Homo sapiens: one gene and its partner. The protein of the gene in region 1 purifies or fractionates together with the protein of each later gene. This does not show direct contact. Each region holds a gene or a part of one and is shown on either strand. Other genes may lie near its edges.

Region 1 (3,653 bases):
TCGCTGCTGCGGCTTTGTCTCCCCCGGGGAGGGGGTCCCGGCGGCTCTGCGTTTTCGGGCTCTCGGTCCCGGCGCCGTCGTTTTCCGCCTCCTGCGGCCCGGGCCCCCGTCTGGGTCCGACCCTGCGGGGCCTCGCCTTGGCGCTTGGGCTCCTGCCCGGCAGGTTTCCGCGCGTCCCCTGTCCCCGACCCTCGGGCTGGGCGCTTCCGCCTCCAGGTTTTCTCTCCGTGTTTCTGTAGCTCCCCGGCCTCGTCTCTCCGGGGCTCCTCTCGTCTCGGCGTCTCTGTCTGTCGTCTATCGTTGTGTCTCTGGCTCTGCGTCAGTCTCTCTTGGGTTTTCTCTTCGGGCCTCCGCTGTCTCTCCGAGTCTCTGATCCAATCCCCCACCCCTCGTTTCTCTCTCTCTCTCTCTCTCTCGTCTCTCTCTCTCTCTCTCTCTCTCTCTGTCTCCCTGTCTCTCTCCATCCCTCCCTGTGTCTCGTCCCCGCCGGGTTCTCTCTAGCTGGGCGTCTCAGTGTCTGTGTCTCTGGCACTCTCGGACTGGCCTCGTGTCTGCGCCCGGTGGCGTCGGTCGTTGTCTCTCGCCAGAGTTTCTTCCCATCTCTGGCTCCCCCGGACTCTGTCTCTGCCTCCTTCGTCTCTGTCGGGTTCCCAGAACACCCGGGCCGGGCGCCCCAGCGCTCCTGGGTCCCCTGGCGTCTTCCCCGCGGCTGAGCCCATCTCTTTTTCTCAGAATCGGGGTTTTGTTCTCAGACAAACGAATCCCAATCGAAGCGCATCGAACCCGAGGGCCCCAGATCGGGCGCGACGGGGTCCGCGCGGGAGGAGCCCCCCGGACGGGGCGGGAGCGTGGGGCCTGGCAGGGGAAGGCCGGGCGCGGGGACTGCACCGGACCCACCCCGGGACGCTGCGCGGGGCGCTCGGTGGGTGCCGGCGGCAGCGCCTGGGCACAGAGAGGGGATTACGCGACGGGCCGGCGACAGCGGCTGGGGCGGCGGCCGCGGGGACCCCAGGCTGCCGGTCTCCGCCGGCCCTCCCTGACCCGCTGTCCCTCCGCAGGCGGACGCCGCGGGCATGGACTATTCGTACGACGAGGACCTGGACGAGCTGTGCCCCGTGTGCGGGGACAAGGTGTCCGGCTACCACTACGGACTGCTCACGTGTGAGAGCTGCAAGGTGAGCGGCGAGCGCGCGGCAGGGGTGCGGCAGACGGGCGCTGCGGGGCCTCGCTGACTCTCAGCTCCCGCAGGGCTTCTTCAAGCGCACGGTGCAGAACAACAAGCACTACACGTGCACCGAGAGCCAGAGCTGCAAGATCGACAAGACGCAGCGCAAGCGCTGTCCCTTCTGCCGCTTCCAGAAATGCCTGACGGTGGGGATGCGCCTGGAAGGTGCGCGCCGCGCGGGCCTCGACCCCTGACCCCCCACAGCCTGAGGGGGTAGGGGGTGGGGGTGGGAGAGGGGCTGAGGGGATAGTACCATTGGCCTTCGCGAAGGCCCCTCGTGCGACATTAGGGCCCAGTCGCTGCAAGAGAACCGGGCGCTGGCGCTGGGTGGGCCTCGGGCGGGGAAGGGACGCTGGCAAGGCCAGCCTGGGTTGGGCTGAGAAGTATCCAAAAGTGAACCCTATGGAGATGACTCTTTCCCCAGCCCCTGCCAGGGCCCCAGCACAGGGTCGGCAGAGCTCCTCCCTCTGTGAGGAGGTCCCCATGCCCCCAAAATACCCAACCCCAGCCAGCAGAGGCCAAGTCCCAGTGCCCGCACTGTCAGTCAGGCTGGGTGACATTGGGCAAAATCCTTAACCTCTCTAAACCGCAGATTTCCCATGTGAAACATGGGCTTGGCCGGATGGAGCGGCTCATGCCTGTAATTCCAGCATTTGGGAGGCTGAGGCAAGAGGATCACTTGAGCCCAGAAGTTTAAGACCAGCCTGGGCAACATGGAGAAACCTTGTATCTATAAAATATAAAAAAGTAGCTGGGCGTGGTGACATGTGCCTGTAGTCCTAGCTACTCAGGAGGCTGAGGTGGGGGGATCACTTGAGCCTGGAAAGTCGAGGCTGCAGTGAGCTATGATCACACCACTCCACTCCAGCCTGGGCGAGAGGGAAACCCTGTCTCAAAAAATAAGTACATAAAAATAAAAAAGAAAGAAAAGAAAAGGCAGAAAGAGAAAGAAAGAAAAGAAAAATGGGCTTAACGGCAGCGCCTTCCTCCAGTGAGTGAGTGTGGGGATCGGTGCAGGCAAGCTGAAGGTGCCTAGGCGTTCATTGCCGCAGGTTAGCTGTCAAGCCCATCACGCTTTCCATTAGGATCTGCCCACCACCACCGCCCAGCCCCCACACATTCAGCTGCCCATCTGCTTGTCTGTCCGTCCATCCAAAGGGCTCTCTGGTTTATTGGCTCAGCCAGTGAGATTCCTTCCCGTCATGTTCTTAGCCAGGCCCTGAGGGGGCCGGGCAGTGGGGGACAATTGAATTGCCCCCAAGAAACCCAGGCCCCTCTTTGCCTCCCTACCCTCAACCCCAGCTCTCAGCCCAGAGAGGAGGAGGTAAGTTTTGGCAGGAAAGATTTGAGCTTCTGGAGGTGGCCGGTCACTGGACTGTGTGCTGAACAGGCAGTGGTTGATTAAGGTCTTGGAACAGTGTAGAAAGCCCCAGGTGGCTCTGAGAGTGGTGGACCACATGCCCTGCCACCTGGAGAAAGGACTCCTGGATGGGAGAGGGGACATCCTGTCCTGTCCCCAGAGCCCATGCCCCTAGTGCCAGGTCCCAAGGGGCCAGATAGCTGGCTGTTGTGGGCAGTAGAAACTCCCGTGCAGCCTGCGAGCAGCACAGCGCTGCCCACCCCAGGGGGCAGGAAGATTGGCCAGGCAGCCCCCCAGCCATCATCCCTGCTGAGCACCACCACCCCCTCTCTCCTGCTCTTTCCCCTCGCCCAGATCCCAGGGTGGGGCCCTGTCTGAGCAGGGGCGGGGGGCACACTCCAGCTGCAGAGATGTACCTGTTGGGTCTGGCTGATGACACATTCCTCGCCAGGCGGAGGAGCTTCTAGTCGGCAAGAGAGGTCCCCTCCCCCAGCATAGAGCCTTGGCCAGCTCTAAACTTGGCTTCACATTCGCAGCCAGTGAAGGATACTTGAGTCATTTTGAAGCAGGAGCTCAACAGTCAGGCAGTCAGTCAACAAACAGCTGGACCCTGGGGCCAGCGGTGAACAAGGCTGACCAGGGTCCCCTTCCGGTCACCATCTCCCTGCCAGGCCTTATGCTAGACACCTGAGCCCAGAACTTAGCCCGCAGGAGCACATGGCATGATCCACTCAGCATGATAAGAGTGGGCAAGGACAGGGCACCTGGGGCAAGGACAGTAGAGCCCGTTTGCATGAATCCAGGAGTGCTTCCTGGAAGTAGTGACATTGAGGCTGGGTGTTCAGCAAGCACAAGAGAAAAAAAAAAGTTTGAGTCAGAAGGAAAATGAAAGGCAGGGTGGAGGAGGAAGGAGATGTGTCAAACAGAGGAGTGGAGGTGAGTTCGGTGGAGTGGAAGGAGAGGGGTCTTAGCAGGGATTGCCTGAAAAGCTGAGCAGGGCCTTGAATGCCAGGCAAAGGAGACTGACTTCCCCTGTGGTCAGTGGGAGCCATGAAAGGGTGTTGAGCA
Region 2 (2,771 bases), on another chromosome or scaffold:
CTAGCTCAGGTCATTCCTCTACCCATGGGCAACATGGTTCTACATCAGGACAGTCATCGAGCTGTGGCCAACATGGAGCTAGCTCAGGTCAGTCTTCCAGCCACGGTCAGCATGGCTCTGGCTCAAGTCAGTCTTCTGGCTATGGCCGACAGGGCTCTGGATCTGGCCAGTCTCCAGGCCACGGCCAGCGTGGGTCTGGGTCAAGGCAGTCTCCCAGCTACGGCCGACATGGGTCTGGCTCCGGTCGGTCTTCCAGCAGTGGCCAACATGGGTCTGGCTTAGGCGAGTCTTCTGGCTTTGGTCACCACGAGTCTAGCTCAGGGCAGTCCTCTAGTTACAGTCAGCATGGGTCTGGCTCAGGTCACTCCTCTGGCTACGGACAACACGGCTCTAGATCAGGACAGTCATCTAGGGGTGAACGACACGGATCTAGCTCAGGTTCGTCTTCCCACTATGGTCAGCATGGGTCTGGCTCCCGTCAGTCTTCGGGCCACGGCCGACAAGGGTCTGGATCTGGCCAGTCCCCTAGCCGCGGCCGACATGGGTCCGGTTTGGGGCACTCCTCCAGCCACGGCCAACATGGGTCTGGCTCAGGTCGTTCTTCCAGCCGTGGCCCATATGAGTCTCGCTTGGGTCACTCTTCTGTCTTTGGTCAACATGAGTCTGGCTCAGGACATTCCTCTGCTTACAGTCAGCATGGTAGTGGCTCAGGGCACTTCTGTAGCCAAGGACAGCATGGTTCTACATCAGGACAGTCATCAACCTTTGACCAGGAGGGATCTAGCACAGGCCAGTCTTCCAGCTATGGCCACCGTGGCTCTGGCTCCAGTCAGTCTTCTGGCTATGGCCGACATGGGGCTGGATCTGGCCAGTCTCTTAGCCACGGCCGACACGGGTCTGGTTCAGGGCAGTCTTCCAGCTACGGCCAACATGGGTCTGGCTCAGGACAGTCCTCTGGTTATAGTCAGCATGGAAGTGGCTCAGGGCAAGATGGGTATTCTTATTGCAAAGGAGGAAGTAACCATGATGGGGGAAGTTCTGGCTCATATTTTCTCAGTTTTCCTAGTAGCACTTCACCCTATGAATATGTCCAAGAGCAGAGGTGCTACTTTTATCAGTGAATAATAAACATAAATGCAATTTACTCAAGTAGCAATTTAAGAAATAGGAAAGTCATCTATGAATTCATCATGAAAGACAAGCAATCCATCATGAAATTCGTTCTAAAAGTGAATCAATGCATTTCTGTCTCTTTCTTTAGAGCCTAAAACTGTAGCATATATCTTGTTATGGGGTTCCTTCCAAAGACTGTTAGGCATTTGTGCTACTTTGTTAGAAAATACTGAGTGGAATAACTTGTTAGAATGAGGGTTAAACTTTGAGGAATAATGAAAAGCTTTTAAAGAGCTTTGGGTTTAGTTGGAGTTGTCTTTTTGAGAGCTCATCATTCATTTATAGATGGTGCCAAAGCTAACCTTACATTTCTTAGAAGCAAAATATTACAAATGCATTACCAGTCCTAGATACAAAGCTTTGTTTTACAGCAATTAGTGTACCCTAATTTTTAGTGTGCCCCAAGTTTGGTGTGTCCCAATTTTTGGTATTGTGGCAGAAGGTGAAGGCTCTGAAAGCAAAGATGCAGCAGCGGTAGTGTCTTTACTTATCAAAACCATCAAGTCCTTTTTCTTGGGTATATATTTAATCAGTAAGTTAATTAGTGGCATAAAAAAGTAGCATCAGGGTCTTTTCCCAAGCCAGTGAGCAAGAGCATTATTTCATAAAGAATAGGGATTTATCATTTCAGGAAAAAAAAAAACATTCAAATGTGGGCTTTAGCTTGTTTTCAGCAGAAAGATCTTGCTCCCTATTTCTAAGAGGCTGCTCAATATTGGGAAATATATTGAGGAGTTATTCCATGGAAATACAATGCTTTCCACCTACTACTGTAGTTCAATAACGTTTCCACCTGAAAAAATATCATCCATGCCCAGATGAAAAGGAAGAGTATCTGTCACTGCTACATAGTTCCTTAATTTGACTGTAACACATTTGTTTCAAGTCTTTGGATTCAAACAACCGGATTGTATTAAAATTGACAATAAATAAATGTTGATTAAATACTAAGACTTTTCTCATCTGTGCTTCATTTCACTTCTTACATACAGATGGTCATCCTAGAAACCAAACCAAACAGCGATTTCCCAATATTCTATTTTTCACAATGAAGAATAGATAAAGCATTCTTAAAACTCAATAAGACAAACTACTTCATTTTAAAATGATCAAAATTCCATCACACTGGTATTGGCAATGATTTTTTTGATATGACACCAAAATCACACACAATAATGTGGAGCTGTCAGCTCCATACATTTTATTGTCCCTGAAGCCCTTAGAGGGAGACAACATATGGAGGTAGAAGGCGATATTTGTCTTGGTTTAACAAAAACTTTTTAGTGTTAGTTTTAATTTTTAACAAAAAAAGTTTTTTAAAAAAATTTAAAACAGAAAAAAGCCTACAGAATAATGATGTAAAGAAAAAAATATTTGTGTTCAGCTATACAATGTGTTCGTGCTTTAAGCTAGGTGTTAATTAAGAGAGTCAAAAAGTTTAAAAATGTAAAAGTCTATAAACCTAAAAATTTACAGTAAGCTAAAGTTAATTTTTACTGGAGGAAGAAATTCTTTTATAAATTTAGTGTAATTCAAGTGTATAGTGTTTACACACTCTACAGTAGTATACAGTAATGTCCTAGGCCTTCCCATTCACT

What was found.
Region 2: the proteins of NR5A1 (region 1) and HRNR purify together in Homo sapiens (co-immunoprecipitation; one study listed by IntAct). This does not show direct contact.

What each region holds. Positions count from the first base shown.
Region 1 is NC_000009.12:124,500,816-124,504,468, reverse strand, and holds part of NR5A1 (steroidogenic factor 1), read left to right. Parts: intron 1-1,058; 5' UTR 1,059-1,073; coding exon 1,074-1,175; intron 1,176-1,248; coding exon 1,249-1,390; intron 1,391-3,653. UniProt on the Homo sapiens protein: Transcriptional activator. Essential for sexual differentiation and formation of the primary steroidogenic tissues. Binds to the Ad4 site found in the promoter region of steroidogenic P450 genes such as CYP11A, CYP11B and CYP21B.
Region 2 is NC_000001.11:152,211,426-152,214,196, reverse strand, and holds the end of HRNR (hornerin), read left to right. Parts: coding exon 1-1,121; 3' UTR 1,122-2,121; downstream 2,122-2,771. UniProt on the Homo sapiens protein: Component of the epidermal cornified cell envelopes.